Linked DNA regions of Homo sapiens. The protein of the gene in region 1 interacts with the protein of each later gene in a biochemical or structural test. Each region holds a gene or a part of one and is shown on either strand. Other genes may lie near its edges.

The links. Proteins that work in one complex are often made in the same cells at the same time.
Region 2: the proteins of NOTCH3 (region 1) and BAG2 form a complex in vitro, tested with the Homo sapiens proteins (one study listed by BioGRID).
Region 3: the proteins of NOTCH3 (region 1) and TNNT2 form a complex in vitro, tested with the Homo sapiens proteins (one study listed by BioGRID).

Annotation. Positions count from the first base shown.
Region 1 is NC_000019.10:15,183,987-15,191,007, forward strand, and holds part of NOTCH3 (neurogenic locus notch homolog protein 3 precursor), read right to left. Parts: intron 5,443-7,021; coding exon 5,287-5,442; intron 5,189-5,286; coding exon 5,003-5,188; intron 4,363-5,002; coding exon 4,249-4,362; intron 4,009-4,248; coding exon 3,895-4,008; intron 3,353-3,894; coding exon 3,119-3,352; intron 3,003-3,118; coding exon 2,892-3,002; intron 1,694-2,891; coding exon 1,501-1,693; intron 1,423-1,500; coding exon 1,271-1,422; intron 1,034-1,270; coding exon 920-1,033; intron 465-919; coding exon 309-464; intron 1-308. UniProt on the Homo sapiens protein: Functions as a receptor for membrane-bound ligands Jagged1, Jagged2 and Delta1 to regulate cell-fate determination.
Region 2 is NC_000006.12:57,175,326-57,182,346, reverse strand, and holds part of BAG2 (BAG family molecular chaperone regulator 2), read right to left. Parts: intron 316-7,021; coding exon 206-315; intron 1-205. UniProt on the Homo sapiens protein: Co-chaperone for HSP70 and HSC70 chaperone proteins. Acts as a nucleotide-exchange factor (NEF) promoting the release of ADP from the HSP70 and HSC70 proteins thereby triggering client/substrate protein release.
Region 3 is NC_000001.11:201,374,660-201,382,033, forward strand, and holds the start of TNNT2 (troponin T, cardiac muscle), read right to left. Parts: upstream 3,022-7,374; 5' UTR 2,964-3,021; intron 1-2,963. Other genes in the region: LAD1 (ladinin-1), read right to left, coding at 7,229-7,234. UniProt on the Homo sapiens protein: Troponin T is the tropomyosin-binding subunit of troponin, the thin filament regulatory complex which confers calcium-sensitivity to striated muscle actomyosin ATPase activity.

The sequences.
Region 1 (7,021 bases):
GAGCGATGATTGCAACACTGCACTCCAGCGACAGAGCTAAGACTCTGTCTCAAAAAAAAAAAAAAAAAAAAAAAAAAAAGAGGCAGCACACAGACTCCAAGGTTCTAAGCCCAGCTCATTCCCTAACTCGTTCCATGGGCTTGCACAAGAAGTCACTCAACCTCCTCGGGCCTCAGTTTCCATATAAATAAAACGGGAAAAGTAAGATAACTGTGAAGATGAAATGACAGCACAGTGCCAGGCACACAGTTCAAGCTTAATGACTGTGTTCCCCAGAGCAGCACCCCCAAGAGCTCCCCTGCACTCACTGGGGTCACAGTCATTGATGTCCTGATCGCAGGAAGGGCCAGTGTACCCTCCATGGCAGGTGCAGCTGAAACTCCCTGCCAGGTTGGTGCAGATACCATGAGGGCCACAGGGTGCGGGGCCAGCACACTCGTCCACATCCTGCTGGCATCGTGGGCCTGGGGGTAGGGAGCAAGGTTACACCTAGGGTTACAGGGTACAGAGCAGGGTCTCAGGGACCTGGGGCTCAGGAAGAACCTGCAGGCCGAGATGGGTGAAGGCAAAATAAGCCGTGCTGTCATTCGTGTCTGGGCATTTTGCATATGCAGTTTCAGAATGGCCGTCTCCCTGTCTCAGTAGGTGGCAAATACCTACTATGAGGTCTGCTCCTCCAGGAAGCTGTACCCTAAACCCCGCCCTAAGTCCCAGCATCTCTAGCCCCATAACTCTTCCTCTTCCAAGGGCTGACCCACACAGGCTGCATATCAGTGTCCAGCTCTGTCCTTCCAAGAAGGAAGCCCCTCTCAAAGGCAGGGCTGGGGATGGGTCCCTCTCTGGATCCCCAGCATCATCCCTGATAGGGTAGGGGGCAGAGGAGATGGAGAGGAGGAGGGAAGAGAAGCAGGTGGCATACCTTGCCAGCCCTGGGGGCAGGAGCAGACAGGCAGCTGGCCAGGGGCAGACTCGCAGCGGCCCCCATGCTCACAGGGGTTCGGGGTGCAGGGGGAGAGGAGTTCACACTGACGTCCTGTTGGGGGTGGAAGAGAGGGAAGCAGAGATAGCCTTGAGGGACTCCCTGATCCCATCTCCCCCCACCTCCCCCAACCCCAGGGTCCCCACCTTGATACCCACCTCCCAAGCTCCTGGAGGGAAATGATTGAAAGCAAAAAAGAAGCTAACATAGCGGGAGGAGAGAGTAGAGGAGAAGAGAGATGAGAAGGCCCATGGTGTTGGTGGGGCTGCAGAGGGAAGGTGAGGTACACACCCTGGACACCAGGCGGGCAGGTGCAGTGGAAACCCATTCCATCGCTGCTGCATGTCCCACCGGCCCTGCACGGCTGGGACTCACAGGCGTCTCGGGCCAGGCTCTGGCTGCAGCGGGGGCCACTCCAGCCAGGCTCACACACACAGCGGAACCTGGCAGGGGAAGGTAGTCAGGCCAGGGAGGTGGGCCAGGGAGAGGGGGCAGTGTCTGAGGCTGAGAAGGGCCCTCACCCGCCAGGTGCATCATAGCAGATGCCGTGACTGCAGGGCTCATGGGCACAGGGATGGCTCGGGGGGAGGCAGAGTGGGGGCAAGGAGCCAGGCGGGCAGAGGCAGCGGAAGCCATTTTCCCCATCCACACAGGAACCTCCCTCGCCGCATGGGCTGGAAGCACACTCATTGATCTCCACGTTACAAAGGGGCCCTGGGGAGTACACAAGCAATCTCATCTCAGAACAAAGTCAGCAGGGACAACCAGGGAGGGACGACGTGACCCCACTTAGCACACCCACACCCCCGAGCAATGACCTCTTTTTCATAACGCATCAGCTCTTGTGCAGATTAGGACACCCGCCTCCTCAACCAAGAGCTGACTTGCCCCAGATCATTCTGGTCCCCAAACTTCCATGAAGTCCCTTTCTTTTTCTTTTCTTCTTCTTCTTATTTTTTGAGATGGGGTCTCACTCTGTCGCCCGGGCTGGACTGCAGTGGCATGATCATAGCTCACCACAGCCTCCACTTCCTGGGCTCAAGCGATTCTCCCACCTCAGCCTCCCGAGTGGCTGGGACTACAGTTGCGCACCACCACGTCTGGCTAATTGTGTGTGCATGTGTGTGCGTGTTTATCTACGTATTGACTAATCTGGCTTTGGGAGTGTGTTTATTTTTTGTAGAGACAGGGTTTCATTATGTTGCCCAGGCTAGTCTCGAACTCCTGGGCTCAAGTGATCCTCATGTCTCAGCCTCCCAAAGTGCTGGGGGATTACAGACATGAGCCAACACACCTAGCAAAGTCACATTCATTTCCACTAAGGATTAGTTTAGACCCATTCAGAAATAACCTAGTCACTGAGTTTGGACACTTTCATCTATGTTCCAGAATAATCTTTTTGTTTGTTTTTGTATGTGTGTGTGTGTGTGTGTGTGTGTGTGTGTGTGTGTGTGTTTGAAATGAAGTCTCACTCTGTCGCCCAGACTGGAGTACAGTGGCACAATCTTGGCTCACTGCCGCCTCCGCCTCCTGAGGTCAAGCAATTCTCCTGCCTCAGCCTCCCGAGTAGCTAGGACTACAGGCGCCCACCACCACACCCGACTAATTTTTGTATTTTTAGTAGAGATGGGGCTTCGCAACGTTGGCCACGCTGGTCTCGAACTCCTGACCTCAAGTGATCCACTTGCCTTGGCCTCCCAGAGCGCTGGGATTACAGGCGTGAGCCACCGCGCCCAGCCTGCAGAATAATCTCGAAACAACCTTATGCCAATGAGACAGCACAGACTCAGGGCAAAGCACGGACAACCTCGTTGGACAAGAGTCTGCAAAGATACGGGCAAAACAGGCCCACAGAGACGAGTGACTTCACCCTCGATCTAAGGACCCCCTCTCATGGCAGCCACTTGCCCACCTGTGAAGCCAGGTTGGCAGACACAGTCGTAGCGGTTGATGCCATCACGGCAGACTCCAAAGGTGCAGGGGTTGCTGGCACAGTCGTCAATGTTCACTTCGCAGTTCACACCTAGGGGCCAGGAACATGGCATGGAGTGGCCACCACTGTGCCCCACTAGATGCACCATTCCCAAACCCTCTGTGCCCCTCCAGGTGTGCTGTTTCTGCCCCAGCCCCCGGTCCCACCTGTGGTCCCAGAAGGGCAGCGGCAGAGGTACTTGTCCACCAGGTCTAGGCATTTGCCGCCATGGCGGCAGGGCTGGCTGCGGCATTCGTCCACCTGGCTCTCGCAGCGTGTGCCCGTGTAGCCAGGAGCACAGGCACATGAGAAGCTGGCGATGCCATCCACGCAGCGACCATGGTGGCATGGGTCAGGGGAGCAGTCGTCCACGTTGCGATCACACAGCGTGCCCTCAAAGCCTGTGGGGCCAAGAGGGTCAGGCTCCGCCCACTTGCCAGGGGCCTGCCCACAAGTGAGGCCTCGGACCAATCCTGGTTCAGCTCTATCTGAGGCCCTGCCCATCAAGCTGTCAGGAGGCGAGCTCAATACAGGCCCCACCCCCCACCCCCCACTTACTTCCACTCCACCCCACTACAAGCTCCAGAATTTGTCCCTAGCCAAGACTCTCCCACAGTTAAATCCCGCCCCCAGCTGTGGCCCCACCTCCAGCCCTGTTTCTGCCCCACCCTCCACTGGAGATGGGAGCACATGGCAGGTGCCAGGGGAAGGTATTGGGCCCTCCCCATTCAGTTACAGGCACCCTGTGCCCAGCCCAACACTTTGGCTCCACACGTAGCCTTATGTCAGTCTATATGCATTATTGGCTCCACCCCCCAACTCTGTCACTGGGTCCTGCCTTGCTACAACCCCGCCCCCAAGCTCTCCCCAAGTCTGTTATTGGCCCTGTCGCCCACAAGCCCCGCCTCCTGATTCTTGTCGGACTGTCATTGGCCCGCCTCACCCTCGGCACAGCGGCACTCGTAGCCATCGGGCTGGTCCACGCATTTGGCGCCATTCCTGCAGGGCGTGCTGGCGCATTCGTCCACGTCCAGCTGACACGTGGAGCCGCTGAAGCCTGGGGTGGGGAGTGGGATGAGCAGAGGCCCAGAAAGGGTGAGAGCAGTACACCCCTCTCCAGCCCCGCCTTGTTTGGGTGGAAAAACCCATTTACTTGGATTTAAATTAACTTCAATGTTTCATAACATATGGTTTCTATTGTAAGTTATCCGCTAACGTGGTTTTACAGGTTCCCACCCTGGAGTTTTTGCCCCTTCCCAGACATGTCTTTTCGGGCTCCCTCTCCTGAGGTCCTCACCCGAGGGGCAGGTGCAGCTGAAGCCATTGACTCGGTCCTTGCAGACCCCACCGTTGACACAGGGGCTACTCTGACACTCGTCAATGTCCACCTCGCAATAGGTTCCTGTGAAGCCTGGGGCAGGGAATAGGGCTTAGGAAAGCGGGGGCTACCCTATGGTGTGAACGGGGTGCAAGGAAGGAGGTACTTCCCTTCCTACTCATCGACAAATCCCCCGAGCCTTCGTCCCCACCTCTACACTCCCAGCCCAACCTTAATTTTCAGCCACAGGCTGGACTGTCACCCAGCCGTGGTCCCAACTGGCCCAAGGCTCATGGGTGTCCGCAGAGGCCTTGCCTTCAAACCCCTCCTCCTCTCCCCAGTCCTCAGACTAAGCCCTTTCCCCAGTCCCCAGCCCCCAGCCCCAGGGCCCCCCATAGCCTTTGCCCAGGCTTACTGCAAGCTTGTCTGCAGGCTTCACCTTGACCTCACAGCAGCCCCGACTCTGCCTCTCTATCCCCAACCCCTTCCCGAGTGGGTCCTAAGGCCAAGAATACTCCCAGCCCACCTGAGGTTCTACTGACTCCATTTGACCAAGCCCCCAGAATCACACAGTATTCCCTTCTGGTCCTGACCCCACCTCCTTCCAGGCTTCAGTCTCTAAGGGTCCCACTCCAAACCCACTTACACCCCATTCTGCTCAGCTCCCCATCCGCGGGCTTCTCTGTCCCCGCCCCCTGCCTCAGGACCCGCCCAGGCCACGCCCACCACCCACCTGCCATACAGATACAGGTGAACTGGCCTATGCGGTCGAGGCACGTGGCCTGGTTTCGGCAGGGCCCCGACAGACACTCGTTGACATCGGTCTCACAGCGAGGTCCAGTGTAGCCACGACCGCACTGGCACAGGAAGGAGCCCTGCGTGTTCACGCACCTGCCCAAGTGCTCGCAGGGGTTGGCGCCTGCCGGATGGAGTGCGATCGGTGTGGGCGTGGCTGGCCGGGACCCCCTCCTCTCCCCTCTTTCCCAGCCCATTCACAGACGATGGAGCTCCCCTCACCGATAGAGCACTCGTCCACATCCTGGTCACATGCCCCACCCGTGAAGCCGGGAGGACAGGTGCAAATGGCCCGGCCGTTCACCGGATTTGTGTCACAGATAGCATCCTCGTGGCAGGGGTTGCTGACACAGGCGTCATCCAGGTGACACAGGAGGCCTGGGAAGTGGTAAGCAGAAGTCATAGGCAGATCTTCCTGCTCTGCCCAAAAGGCCCACACCCCTTGAGTATTGTTTTGTCGTTGTTGTTGTTTTGTTTTGTTTTTTGAGACGAAGTTTCGCTCTTGTTGCCCAAGCTGGAGTACAATAGCGCGATCTTGGCTCACTGTAACCTCCACCTCCCAGGTTCAAGCGATTCTCCTGCTCAGCCTCCCGAGTAGCTGGGATTACAGGCATGTGCCACCACGCCCGGCTAATTTTTTGTATTTTTAGTAGAAACGGGGTTTCACCAAGTTAGCCAGGTTGGTCTCAAACTCCTGACCTCAGGTGATCTGCCTGCCTCAGCCTCCCAAAGTGCTGGGATTACAGGCGTGAGCCACCGCGCCCGGCCTGTTGTTTTTATTAAACCTAAACAGTATTTAGTAGCTGCTTTTTTAATCCATTTATTATGAGAACTATCAAACATACAGAAAAGTTGACCATTCATATACCCACCACCTAGATTCAACTATTGTTAGCTTAATCTACCAATCTTCTTTTCTAAACCATTTAAAAATAAATTGCAGACCGGGCACAGTGGCTCACGTCTATAATCCTAGCACTTTGGGAGGCCAAGGTGAGTGCATCGCTTGAGTTCAAGAGTTCAAGACCAGCCTGGGCAATATAGTGAGACCCGTCTCTACAAAAAATACAAAGCTTAGCCGGGCATGGTGGCGCACGCCTGTAATCCCAGCTACTTGGGGGACTGAGGTGGGAGGATCACTTGAGCCCAGGAAGTCGAGGCTGCAGTGAGCTGAGATCATGCCACTGTACTCCAGCCTGGGTGACAAAGTGAGACTCTGTCTCAAAAATAAAATAAAATAAATTGCAAACATCCACATATTGTTTTAAAACCTTTTGACTCTTCTGATTACAAAAGGGTCCTACACTCCAGCCTTTGCTTCTGTAATACCCTCTGCCATGTATGCCCTCTTTCTATATCCACGTTCCCCTCCTAAACATGTTCTCTGATCTTTGCCACTTCCAAAGGTAACTCCCAGGAGTTCCCCATTCCAATGGCTTCTGCCCTGAGCCATGCATCAGTGCAATGTCAGCCTCCTCCCAAGCCTCTCCCAGGCTTACACTTCCCCACTAAAGCTGCCTCCAGCATCATCTTTTTTTCTCTCTCTTTTTTGTTATACACGGTCTTACACTGTCTCCCAGGCTGGAACGCAGTGGCTCAGTCTCAGCTCACTGCAACCTCCACCTTCTGGGCTCAAGCCATCCTTCAACCTTAGCATCCAGAGTAGCTGGGACTACAGGCATGCGCTACCATGCCCAGCTAATTTTTTGTATTTTTGGTAGAGATAGGGTTTTGCCATGTTGCCCAGGCTGGTCTCAAACTGCTGAGCTCAAGCAATCTACCCGCCTGGGCCTCCCAATGTGTTGGGGTTACAGGCGTGAGCCACCACACCCAGCCTACCAAGTTTTTGTAGAGATGACAAAAACTCACTATGTTGTCCAGGCTGGTCTCAAAGTCCTGGGCCCAAGCGATCCTCCCATCTTGGCCTCCCAAAGTGCTGGGATTACAGGCATGAGCC
Region 2 (7,021 bases), on another chromosome or scaffold:
TTGGGGTAGAGAGCATGCTGGAAGAAATCTCTGAGTAAGTGGCTGCTGTAATGAACTGACAGCTGCAGCTGCTCTCTGTGGCTCACATTAAATGCTGTGGCCTGGTGTACGCATACCAAAAGTCAAGCAAAAATTGACCCACACTTATCATAAACTCTTTAAAGGAGTGTAAAAGATGAGCCCCTTCTGTGGAGATGGCTCTCACCGTCACTGATCTGCCTCATGTCCTGGCTATTTTGGATACTGTGGATCATTTCCAGAAGGATTTCTTTCTCTTGCTCAACAGCAGTTGCTGCTTCTCTCAAAGCTTCAACCCTATAGAAATTGGGAAAACAAAACGGTTATTGTATGCAGGATGTTCTTCCTATTAATTTTCTTTATCTCTCATTCAACCCAAATCAAGTTTAAAGATCACCAAACTTTTCAAAAATTCTTCATTTCTGCTTTAAAATTCTTTCATTTTTCTATACACTTGCCTTTCTCCCATTTTCCTCCCAGCTCATAAGGCAATCATTCTTTCGTGTTTATCTAATTAATACTATTTGTTTTTTACAAGATCTGTATTATTTGTATATTTTGAATTTATATCTCATTCTGTTTTTATTTTTTCACTTAGCATCCAGGTTGCTAGATTTTTGTTTGTTTTTTGTTTTTGAGACAGTCTTGCTTTGTCACCCAGGTTGGAGCACAGTGGCACAATCTCACCGCAGCCTCCACCTCCCGCTTTCAAGTGATTCTCGTGCCTCAGCCTCCAGGCCCGGCTAATTTCTGTAGTTTTAGTAGAGACGGGGTTTCACCATGTTGGCCAGGCTGGTCTCAAACTCCTGGGGTTTCACCATGTTGGCCAGGCTGGTCTCAAACTGCTGGCCTCAAGTGATCTGCCCACCGCAGCCTCCCAAAGTGCTGGGATTACAGGTGTGAGCCACCACACCCAGCCCCCTATGTGTACTTCTAATCAGTTGCTGCTAATTGCTGTATAATACTCCATGTGTATACCTACCTGATTTTCCCTCTCCACTCTCCCAGAGATGGACACTTAGGTTGTCTACCAGCTTCTCATTACTACAAATAACACTTCTATGAATACATCTCCCCTTTGGACCTTGGTGAGGATTTCCTTAGGACATATACCAGGACAGAACTGCTAAGACAAAGGGTATGTGTACTCTGCTTTTGACTTAGTATTATGACTATTCTGCAGAACACCTGTACCTATCCACTCTCCACAGCAAAGCACAGGGGTCCCCATATCCCTACCAACATTCTGCATTTTCCAACTTTCTATTTGCTGCCAGTGTGACAGAAATACACTGATATGTCAGTGTTAACTTGTGTTTTCCTAATAATTTCAGACATCTCTTTGTATCCTTGTTAGCCTATTCATAGACTTTTCCTATTTTGCTTTTCTATTTTTAAACAGGAGTTACTGTTCCCTTGTTGATTTGTATACTCAAGAGATTCTTGTTGGTTACAGACATTGCAACCATCTCTCATCCTCTCATATATGAACCACGTCTGGGATGTCTTGCACTAAAGAGAGACTCTTATTTTGATGCGATCAATTTTTTTTTTTTTTTTGCCTTATGGCGTATGCTTTTGAAGTTTTGACCTAAGGTCTTCCCCCACCCTTTGGTCCTATTTTCCTATATTTTCTCTTATTAACTTTATAGTTCTACCTTCCTTATATTTATGTCTTTAATCCACCTAGCATCAACCCCTGCATGCAGTTAGGTAAGAATGTTTTGTTTTTTTCTTCCAAATAGCCATTTTCCCCAACATTATTTACCAAGCAATCCATCTTTCCCCTAGCGAATGTATATTCGCTATTTATCTCTAAAATCTCTATGCCATGCATTAGTGTATTTAACTGTTCTTATACCAGTGCCAAGTTTTGGGTTTTTTTTTTTAATAGCACTAGCCTTGTACTACACTTTAATATTTGATAGAGCAGGTCCCTCAATCTTCTTTAAAGATAACTTAGCTATTTATGGACTTTTACTTCTCCAACTTTTCCATATAAATTCTAGGGTAAGTTTATTGTGTTTCTCAAAAAACAAGAGAAATTAGACATCTTTATAACATCTCTCTGTTTAAAGGCATGATATATGTCTCTTCATTTATTCAGATCTATAGAGTTCCCATGTATTCTTCATAGTAGTCTTCGTGGATATTGCTGCTATTGTGAATTTGTATTTTCTACTTGATTTTTACTGGTTTGAGAAGTGCTGTTTTTGTAGGTTTATCTTGTCACTGGCAACCTTGATTTACATGTATTCATTTTAGTGTTCAGTCTGTTGATTCTGTTGGTTCTTCTAGGTTAATAATCATATCCATATCATCTGCAGTTTTTATTTCTTCCTTCCCAATCCTATTACTTTTTTTTTTTTAAGAAAAGGTCCTTCAGTACTGTATTAAACAGTGGCAATCATGGGGGTATCTTTGTCTTTTCCCAAATTTAAGGGAAAATCTCTGTGGCTTTTTTGTGTAAAGCCCTGATCAAACTATAGAAGCACTACTTTCCCACTTCACTCAATTGCACACACATGCACTCACACTATACACACACATGAATATACCCAGTCACTAAAAAACTAAGCTGTGGAATAAGGGCAAAATAAAGAAATATATATTGTATATTTAACATGTTCTATACTTCCAGGGAACGTTGTTATTATGAATTACAGTAACTAAGATGCCAACTTTTGCAAAATGAAAGTGACAGACCTATTCCCAGTATTTGGATGGTCTTAGAAATACAAGTTCATGAAAGATCTAATCCTAACTGCTGTCTTAAGTGTGCACAGAAAGAACAACTTCACCAATGTTTTAGCACGTTCAATTCCATAAAAGGATCCTCTCCCTGCCCTAAGCACACACATGCCTTTTCCCCTTCGGTTACCCACCTGTTATACCCCAAAATAGTACTGACAGGCTGTAAAATCACAGGATATCTTTATTCTTCAAGATATTAAATATATGTCAAAGTGTGTTTATAAGAGCCAGTAAAAGCAAAGAACTGGGAAGAATCGCATGTGACAAATTTGGCTAGAGAACACAATCAAAATACAAATATTCTACTAACTAATAGTAATGCAAGTATCAGGCCCTATTCCAGGACCATTCAGTATTTACTTAAACATTTTACATTAGCAATCTCTCAGAAAGATAAACTAGGGCCCAGAACATAGGAAAGAGACGGAGTTGGCACTAAATATTTATGCTAAAAGCACAAACCATGACTCCAATATTTAGACAAATGACACAGGTGAATCATGTGATTGATAAATGAGAAGATGCTGAAAGAAGAGATTAATTTTTCAACACCTTTTCGGTTTGTATTCAATTGTAAGATGATAAGAGAGAACAATGCTATTCTGAAAAGGAAGGTTTCATTTATGAGTTACAGCAGTAAGTTCATGTTCTTAACAAAATAGATAAAAAAGACATTCTAGAAAAAATATAATAAGCCTGTCATATGACGAAAATATTTTATCATTAAATGAGACCAAATAGTTAGGTGGAACTGCTAAAGTTTGTGTTTTAGGGACCCTCCCCCACCCCCATCCCACAAGGCTTTTTTTAATACATAATAGAAATTACCAGGGCATTATCCCTGTGAAAACCAGATTTCATCATTTATAGAACTTCTTATATACATTTTTATGTATACCTTTTTCATTTCATGCAAGGGTAAAATGTCATTCTTCAAAATGTAAAGATCTCAGGGTTTATTTGGCAACATGGGCTTTTCATGTCCTATTCCCTCTTCAGGTAGCATTCTTTCTCCCTGACCCTTGTCTACTGGGATCACCTTTTTCAAAACCCAATTGCTTCAGCAGGAATTGTTTCCTTAGCTTCCCCCTTCCTCTCCCTTAAGGCAATTCATGCTCCTTTTGGCCCTGGTACATCCATTTACTCTACAGTCTAAAATATGTCTACCTCATATTTTACATTTTTTCTTTTAAAAAGCTGAACCTAGATCTCTACTTAGTTTAAGTAACGTTTGTACTGTTTGTCAGCTATTGCTATCCTTAAACTCATATACACGTCTTTTGTCTACAATTTTTCCATTAGTTCTAGAAAATTCTTGGCTGTTGTATCTTTGAATATTCCCTGTCTCCCCTTCTGTTATTTTCGTCTGGAACTCTGGTTAGAGAAATGTTGGACCATCTCACTTTATCCTTCATGTTTCTTAATATCTCATCTGGCAACACTTCTGGCGGAGAAGGGCAGTTCTGTTTTTACTAACAGATCCCGGAAGCAGCTACACGTCCAAATTGGGAAAGAACTTTTCCTCACATCAAGGCTGGCCTGGGCTGTGCTCCTGGAAAACTCCCTGCATGAAATCACAACTAAGTAGGCTTTGACAAAAAGAAATTTTAGTCAGAGTACTCAGTAGGAAGACAAAACCGGAGCGCATGCATCCTCAGCTAGTACCCAGGTCTTGGGCACCTCACAAACCTCTGCAGTCTCAGTATCGAAACGGCAAACTGCTGGGAGACTTAGGAGGAGTACAACAGCAATTTTGCGCAAACTGTGGCTACTATTAATATGTCAGCTAATAGAGTATGCAGTGAAAACTGCGCCAGCACTGCCACTACTAGCTGTGCAAATGGGTCAGTCGCCTATGAAACAGGGATGATAAGGGAACAGTGCTTGTGACTAAATGAAGTAAAGCAGGTAGAGTTTAACAGTGACTGATAGCACTGACTAAAAAAATTACACACACACACAAGTTAATATGTATAATGTGTCTAGAATTGGCACTGGCATATATTTATAGTATTAATAGCTATTATATTCTTACCATTATGAATGTGGGCTTATTTATTAATGATGAAAATTTGTGCTTTCATAAAAAGGAGGGAAAATGGCAAATGCTCATACCATGATTTGAAAGAAATAATTTCTAAAACAGGTTTGTTTTTTTTGAGATGGAGTCTCACTCTGTCGTCCAGGCCGGAGTGCAGTGGTGTGATCTCAGCTCACTGCAACCTCCACCTCCAGGGTTCAAGTGATTCTCCTGCCTCAGCCTCCCGAGTGGCTAGGACTACAGACATGCGCCACCACGTCTGGCTAACTTTTGAATTTTTTATTAGAGATGGTTTTCACCATGTTGGACAGGCTGGTCTCAAACTCCTGACCTCAGGTGATCTGCCCACCTCAGCCTCCCAAAGTGCTGGGATTACAGGAGTGAGCCACCACGCCTGGCCTAAAACAGGTTCTTAAAACTCATAGTTCTGTCTCTTATTCCATACTCCTATATCAAAAGAATGCTATAATGATCACTTTTAGGCAATGTAAAATTCTGAAGTGTTTTCCTAATCACCAAAATGTTAAATTACATTTACTGTCAAGACATTTTGGTGTAAAAGAAGGGACTAGTGTTTTTAGTGTGAAGAGCCACTTTTCAGTAGCATGTCCTCAGGCAAGCCACTTCATCCTAATTGGACCTCACTTCCCTCATTTCTAGGAGAGAGAGTATGTGCCCTCCACCTAACTCGAAGGGTTCTTAAAGTTTCAAATAACATATATGAAGTGTTCTTTTAAATTACAGGCTGTCACACAGTATTAACTATGATGCCATCTTGTTTTGTGACTCCTAGAACACTGGCACACCCTAACATGAAACTTTAAGCCAGACGAATGATCCCTATCACCCCCAACCCCATCCCTTCACTACCTGGGTGCAGGTTAAGCCACAGTGAAAGGCTGACAGGAAGGCAGAAGGAGCCACTGTGTTATAAGTTTTGGGAAACATATGAAAAGCCAATCTCCCAGTCCTATCATTTTCCCCTCTGCCAGTCTCCAAAACCCATCCCCCAAACATCTTCATTACCATCTTGAGCTTTCTAGGAGCTACCCAATACCTAACACATAGTGGGTGTTCAATATCCACTGAATTAAAGGCCAATTTAGATTGAATTTTTATCTCTTAGAGGAAGCTCATCTATTCATCCATATATCATTTCTATATTTTGAAATGTGATATATTTAAGAAAATTCAGGCATAAAGTATTAGAGCCTGGAGAGCCAGTCTTCCTGGGTTCAAATTTGGAGTTTACTACTCTCTAGTTGTGTGACTTTGGACAAGTCATTTAAGCTTCTAAGCCTCAATTTCCCTATCTGTAGAATGGTGATAATAGTAACAACGACATGGGGCCTGGCACATAGTCCGTGTACATTAAATGAATAAACATTAGCCTGTGTTTTAGAAAAAACTCTCACACTGTGTTTTTCCTCTGCTCTCACACTGTAACAACACAGAAGGCTGTGACCAAATATGTGGGGGATTTGCAGCTAAGTATCCCCCAACTCAGTTCCAACACTCCCTACACCTGGAGACGGTATCAGATCCCACAAGTTGAAAGCTCAGTCCCCAAGACCCCACCCTCCACCGTTGCAAGTCTAGGCCTCCAGAACTTCTGACCAACTGGCTTCAAATTGGGGTTCCCATGTCCCCCTCTTTGGGTTTAACTTGCTGCAGCAGCTCACAAAATTCAGGGAAACACTTACTTATATTTACGGATTTATTATAAAGGGTATTACAAAGGACATGGATAAAGAGATGTGTAGGGTGAGGTACAGGGGGAAGGGGCACACCACCTTCCAGGAGCCTCCACATGTCCAGCTATCCAGAAGCTCTCCAAACCCTGTCCTTTTTGGGTTCTTATGGAGGCTTGCTTCTTTTATATAAGCATGAATGACAACCATGTAGAAAAGTGATTGGACAAAAAGAGTATGCCCTCACTCTAACAGACTGAATGGGGAAACCCAGCAAGGCCAGTCTATTCAGATTCTTCTTGGCCTCTGGGTGCTAAATGCCCTCCTCCAGGGCATAGGGCAGGACCCTCTCTGGAACGAGAGTCTTTTGACCCACAATCAGACTAGAGGTAAGGCAGGTGAAAGAAGGTCAGAGAGAGAGATTCTTTTTCCTGAGGCCTAAAGCACCCCAACATTATAACGTAAGACTGTAATAAGGGTTATGGGAGTTATGAGCCAGGAACTATAACATAAGACT
Region 3 (7,374 bases), on another chromosome or scaffold:
TTTGCTGTGAAATTACTGCTCTTCTTGGGTAGGTGTGAGGAACAGAGGTAGTGTGAAGTGTAGGCATTCAGCTAATAACTACTATGACCCAACCCTCCGGGGCCATGACAGTGCACTGCTCCAGGGACACAATCACGTTGTTTGAAACGTGAACAGCAGCCTCTGTTATAGTGCAATATGCCAGCTCCACAGCCTTCCTGATGTTGGCTTCCAAGGGAGAGAATGGACAGGGTGATGTGAGAGTGAGGCTAAAGTGAGGCGGGAGAAGAATCCAAATGATGCTCAGGACCACCCTCCAATGCTCCTCCCCTGCTGCCCACCTCCTGCCCCACTCACGCGTGCCAGTGCTGCAGCACCAATTTCAGACCCAAGCCTCAGGATGAGGACAGAGGCACATAGACAGTCCTGCTCACTCCCTCATCACCTCTCCCTGCACATCCCCCCCATAGTGGCTGAGACCAATCCCAGGCACTCATCTGTGGACATCCAGCAAGAGCCAGGGCTCTGGTTGGGTGGGGTGATGTCCAGAGGCTGAGCCATTCCAAGGGAGCTGCCACTGCCCAGCTGCCCCTCCAGGTGGAGGCTTCCCCAGACTCAGCACCCACTGCAGCCCTGGATTGATTGTCTTCAGACCCTGTTCCCATTATGTCCAGTTCTGCTGGGTTAGAAACAAGCATGGCTGCAGCAGAGTGGTCCTTCCGCTGCTCCCTCTGCTGGAGCAGGGTGAGGACAGTGAGGGAGGAGCCTTGTTTACAAGGAGCTCTGAACCGCAGCTCTGAGCCACTTTTTTGCCCCAACCCCCAGGGTGGGGTGAGTGGGTGAGAAGAAGAGACATCAAATGTGCGAGGTGCTATAATGCGGGATCAAGCCTCATTCTGCTGAAAAAAAGACTCAAACCCCAGAGGTTCTCCAAATAGGTCTTAGGATGAGAGTGGCCAAAGAGAATAGCCTTCCTAACCCTAGGATGGGTGGGGCTGACAATTGTTACCCAAAGCCCCAGGGGAGCGGCCAGAACTAGTGACTTGAGAACTTGAGGAGCTCCTACCTGAGCCCCAGGAGAAGCTTGTCCCTCAGTGGGAGGGAGAAAATTCTCAGAGGAACCGTGCATGGCCAGCCTGGGCGCATAGCTTCTAGCTTTCTCTCTCCTCTCCTACTCTGCCCTTCCACCAGTTCAGAGCCACTGGGCATGGTGCTGGGGCCTCACAGGAGGACAGAGCAGCTTGGACTCCTCTCCCTGTTCCTGGGGGCACCATCCAGCTCCCAAAAATAGCATGCAGACATGCAGGATGGAGGAGGGCTTTCAGCCAGCCCAGAGGACACCACCATGCCAGTGGCTCAAAGGCAGGACCTGATGCAGGGGAAAGAGGTGGGCTGAGACTGGGGGCTGCAGAATGGGAGAGAGTCAAGAACCTGGCAGGGCAAGGAACCAGAATGTCCTGAAACACCTGTGTCCTCACACCCAAGTCCCACCCACTTCCACAGGCAGCTTTCTAGCCTAATGCATTCATAGCCAACACGTGTTGGAAGCCTAACACGTTCACAGGGTCACCTTTCTTGGGGAGTAAAGCAAAGACAATAGAAGGCATAAGGCATACTGACCTTGGGGTCAAAAAATCTGGGCTTAAAACCCAGATTTTGCTGTGTGGCCTTATTTAAGTCACCTAGCCTCTCTGACTTCAGTTAACCAACTACAAAGCAGGAGAGCCTTGAGTTCTGTCCCTGTAGAAACAGTCTCCGAGTTTCTGAGAAACACAGGCCCCACCCCTCAGTCCTTGTCCCCAGCACTCGAATGGGATTTTCCTAAGCCAACAGCTGTTAGCCCACCAGGAGAGCGGGGGTAAGGGGATGGGGAGAGGGCAGGAAGAGTGGAAGTGGGGGTCAGAAATAGGAGGCAGCCAGCAACCTGATCCTCTCAGATTCCACTTTTGCAGAGAGAAGGAAGATTCGCCCTCTAAGACATGGGTCAGAAAAGGAATTTGGGAGGGCAGGTAGCTTCCCGGCTACAGCAGGCCAGGAATGTGCTCTGAAATTCCTTACACACCAGGCAACCCCCTCCCTGAATAGTCCTCAGCCTGCCCAGGAGAAACTAGAAACCAAGGGAATCTTTCTCTACCACTCCTGGGCACAGAGCAAGGCTTGTCCCAAGATGGGGTGTTGGGGTGGGATGGGACAAGGGTTACACTTACGGGGGCCCAGGTTAAACCCTTTAATGCCAACCAGCTGGGCTCACACCCAAGGACAGGTTCTCCCAGTGGGGCCTTTCCCCATCTGCCCCCCAAGTGCAGCTCAGCTCAGGGTCTGGGAGCTCAGCTCAGCTCTGGGAGGGAATGGCACTGAGTCAGCGGCATCAAATGGAATTCCCGCGTTGGCCTGGAGAGGCGCTGCAGAGGACCCTGCACATCTGGTCGTTCTCAGTACTTCCAGGACAGTTTCTGAGTTCCTAGCCTTGAGAATATGACCAGGAGACTCACTTGACTGACAGGGCTGCAGTCTCGCTCTGCTCCCTGGGACTCAAGAAGGACCTGACTGGAAAGGTATAGGTGACCCTCGGCCTGGAACAAGCAATTTAGGGGAGTCTCTGTTGGTTAGAGCCTCATTGTATTTAGAGCAGGCAGAGGCCTAGCAAATATTTAGCCCACTCTACAGATGAGAAAACTGAGGCCTGGGGAGGGAAAGTGACTCATCCAAGAGTTTAAACTCTACATCTTTAGTGGCAGGTCCAGGACTCCAACCCTAGTCTCCAATGGCTACCATGGGATTCTCTCTTTCTCTCTGCTCTATTGTACCAATCTTGGAGCCCAGACCTGGCAACCTGTCCTCTGAAGTGTGGCCTCCACCAGGAGGGGCCATGGACTTCTGCGGACACAGGCAGACTCTGGGTAAATATGCCAGGGCCCAAGACCCTCACATCTCCCCGTCCATTCTCTGCTCTCCTCTTCCCCAGAGCCCTGCCCGAGCCTTACCTCAGAACAGCAGCTGCCGACAGATCCTGGAGGCGTCTGCTCAGTCTCAGCGGGGACTGGGTGAGGCAGAGGATGGAGAGGGCTTTAAGCAGGCATGTGGGCTGGGGCCTGGTGAGCCAGCCCTGCGGAGGGAGGAATGTGCGACAGGGGACGGGTGGGGCAGGGGGATGGCGGTGGGGGTGGGGGGTGTTGGCTGCTATTTTGGCAGGTGCCAGGGACAAGGCTACAGGAACATGTACCCCACGCCATATAAGCCCATGTGGTCCTCCAGCTGCTCAGATAAGCTATTTAAAACCAGAGCAGATATGCAGGGAACAGTCATGCAACATAAACCAGCTGTCCCTCTTGAGAATCCTGATAAAGCAGAGGCCAGCAACCCAGGCCTGGGAGGGCCAGCTGGGAGCAGGGTTGGGGGGCAGAAGGCAACCTCCAAGACACTCCATAAGTCTCAGCACCAGAATCTTGGAAGGCAGAGGGCAAGAGTTATGTGCTGCTCCACTTGAACTGATGCTGGGGGTAAAGACATCTTCCAGGCTACTGGCTCCTAATGGACTGAGCAGCCTTAGGCAGGTTGCCGGCTCTGCCAGCCCCAGTGAGGACATCTGCAAGGTGGGTCTTCTCCATGACCCCCAAAGCCATGTGGCACACCCTCCTCACAGGGAATGGACTGAAACTGCTACAGGAGGCCAGATACAAGGTAGAACTTCCAGTCAAGAACCTTGAACAGGCGCTCGTTGTGTGAGAGGGGTGATGCGGACTGTCAAAGGTCATCCCCTAACGGCTTTAAAATCAAGCAGTGCGGGGCTATGATCTGCTAAACCTACTAGATTGCAGATGCATAGGTCAGGCCTAGGGGTCTTGCTTGCTTGCCTGTGTCTGACCATGCACATGCACTTGTATGTTCAAGGCTGGCCCATTGCAGGGTTTGGTAGATTATGAAAATGAAAGAGACAGGAGGAAAGCAAGCCAGTAAGCAGCTGAGCTGACTCTCCCCTCCATCTCTTTCTCCGAATCTTCACAGCCTAGGTCCTGCTTGGCTCTGAAGCAGGAATGGTCCTCCTCTGGAGCAGGCCCTCCCCTCCTCCATGACCCCCCCTGGCACTTAAAGATCTTGCCCATTCATGATCCACACTCCTCTGTTTCTCCGTGGGCAAAGAAAGCAATCTCGCTATTCTCTGCCCCCTTCTCCCATCACCCAATCATGTGTCCCGCCTTCCCAGTCCTCAAACTCTTCTCTCAATCCCTCTGCCTTGGGAGCTACTATGCTGCCTCCACCACTAATGTCCTTGAAAGGGTCCTCTGCGCAGGGGACTGCCATTTGCTCCACACCCATGCTGCTGTCAGACTCTTGTCCCATCACTCAGCTGACTCCATCCCCTCCATAGTTCCCTGTGGCCTCTGAGTCCAGTGGCCTTGATTGCCCTGCCACGTGGGCCTCCACACTGCCAGCACATCTGTGGCAGGGCAAGCTGAAGCCAACCGCCCGCTGGCCAGCATTGTGGGACTGAGGACCACCACAGGGAAGCAGGGGCACTTTGTAGAGAGACAGGCAGATGGAGGGGACAGATTCCCGAGGGATAGTGAGGAAGGAGTCAGGCTGTCAAGAAAGTGGGGGGAGCCCCATCATCTCTCTCTCCCATTCTAGCCCACGAAGCAGGGCCCAGCCTTGCCTTGGGTCCTGGCCTGGAGTAACGTAGAATTCGGAATTACTTTTCCCAAACCCTTTTTTAACTTGAGGGTGGGTTACTGTTCCTTGTAAGCCCAATAACCTTTCAAACAGACCACGGTTTATTTGCATGGATGCCTAGAAGAGGGATCTGGGCACCTAGGTCACTACTGAGCCCCATGGGAAAAGCCCAGTAGATCCTTGGTGTCACAGGCCACACGTGTATGGCTTCGAATTGTTCTAAGGCAGGAGCTTCGTTCAGAGCGCTGTGAGACAGCCTCTCAGATAAGGAAATCCAGCCCCCATGCAGCAGCCACTCCTGGGCATAGTAGGGTTACTCTTAGCCCATTTTTTTTTTATATCCCTGTCCTTTCAAAGGGATGTAAAGAGAAAACAAAGCCAGAGTGGAATGGGAGGCTTATGCTGAAACAGTGCATGTAAATTTGAGGATCCACAATAGGACGGGCCACTTGTGGGGCACAGGGCCCCTGTGGCAAGACAGCAGGAGGGTGCAGCCCGGAGTGGTGTGTGGGAGCCCTGTTCTGTCTCCAGAAGGTGCCCAATGTCACCCATCCAGAGGCCTCCCCACCCGCCTGGACACCCAGTCGCTACCACTCATCTATCCCCAGCTGAGGTCATCTTGGGCACACCCTGGTCTCCTTGTTTACTGGCTGCGTCCCCAGTAGGAACGAGGGCAGGGCCCTCACGTGCTGGATTCACAGGGGAGGGGGCTGTGCTGTAGCACCCCGACATTTCCCCTAGCAGTCAGCCCTCACTGGGCACCCCAGGGGAGGGGGGTGCAGGCATGAAGGGCCCTGCTGAGGCTGCAGCTGCAGGAACAGGCCCCTCAGTGTCTTCCTAGGCTCTTACTCCACGGTCAGGCCCTGCCAGGTGAAGGCCTCCAGGAGCCTCTCCTCTGTGTGGGGACAGTTTTGTTTACTGGAAAAGTTCACCTATCATGGCATGAACATATGAAAGTTCTCTGAGGTCATCTGCTTGAAGTTCAGAGAAGGAAAATGGCTCAGGGTCACACCTGAGGTCTGGGCAGAGCCAGAGCTGTTTAGATGTCCCGAGGCTTAGGCAGGACTCAATCCGTTCCTCGGCCCTGCCCCAGCCTTGTCCTCCAACTCTCGGCTATGAAGTTGGAACACTCACAAAGCCCCAGCACTAGCAGTGGGTGGGAGGTGCTCGGGGCAGGGACCCCAGGTCCCGATATCCCTCACTCAGGCACAGGAGACTCACTGACCAGAGGTGGGTCAGCCTGGGGCACTGGGACCTGAGCACGGATGGCACTTTGAGGGCCTGTCCCCTGGGGCACAGATCTGAGGAGCCCTCACCCAGAGTCACAGAGTAGGGCTAGGGCTCATCCCCCACACACTTGGGGAACTGGACTGGTGATACCCCCTTAGGAGCCGTGTTAAGGGTCGTGTTCCAAAAAGACCTGGAGCTTCCCCAGGCATGCAAAGGGGGAATGGGCAGGGGGCTCTGCACCTGGCCACATCCCCAGCTGATTCTGGGTAAAACTAGGGCAGTCAATCAAGATGGAGAGTTCTAATGATTTAAATTTTTGAAAAGTTGTAAACCACAGCTTTAAGGGGTTAACAGGGCACCAGGCTGATGTTCCTAGCTTGGTTGGTTCTAGATTCTCTGATGGTTCACCATGCTCCAAGCTCATAGGAGCCATGAGGTCCAGAGCATGGGGGTGGGGGTTGGAGGGGGCTTGTGGGGAAGGAGGGTAGGCCTGGCCCTGTATGTGGCAGTTCCCAGTCACCAAGCTAGGACTGCTGAGTGGCAAGCCACCACCTTAATGTGAGAAGAGGGGGGATGAGGAAAATGATGATCCTCCTCACACACTTCAGGTGACCTCTGCTAGAAAGCAAGGCCTCCAGAGAGGAATTCGCTTCTAAGGTCTCATCAGTCTCTTACACCTGAGAGTAAATGAGTTTATCAGATCCTTCCTGAGAACAGGTTTTTCAGAGAAAGGGTAAGTGGTTGCACACAAAAAGGCACTTAGCTCCTGGCCATGGCAGCCGGCCAGGGAAGGGAGGGGAGAACCAAGCAGGGAGACGGGGCACAGGGAAGACGCACGGCAGCTCCTTCTCCCCTGGCCAGAGCGGGCCTCAGTGGCTGGGAGCAGGCCCCAGGGACAAAGATGGGTGGGTCCAGGCCTCAGAGAAGGGGGACATCATAGACAAAGAGGCACTTGCTGGGAGCCGATGAGACAGGTGACTCTGGAGTTCTTGAGGGGCGCCGTGCCCTGACTGTGGATGTGAGCAGGAAGGAGCAGAGGTCTCTGGGCAGGACATAGGCCCCATAGTGCTGATGTGCACTTGTGCTGTGACCTGGGCAGAGACTGGGTCCCAGCATCTGTTGTGCCTGCCGCAGGGTGAGAAAGTCCCAGCCCCAAGAGGCTGGGCTGGGAAGGAGCTGGCTGAGTCTTGCAAATATTCCTGACCCCAGGGACCCTGGCCAAACAGATCCACAGGCAAAAAGGGAACAGGGACAATGAGAGGAAAGGGTGCTGCTGTGAGAGGCAGGGGCCTGGCATGAGGGAGGTCCCTTGAGACGAAGACTTGCAGGTCTGTCTTGGCGGGGCTTGTCACACCTGTGGGGCAAAGAGCTGTTAGCACAAGTCAATGGGGTGTCAGGGATGGAAGGGGAAGGGGGCCACTGGATAGGAAGGCATCCCTTTGCCCAAGCCCCACACCCACAAGGAGTCAGAGCCCTGTAATCTGCCAGCTGAAG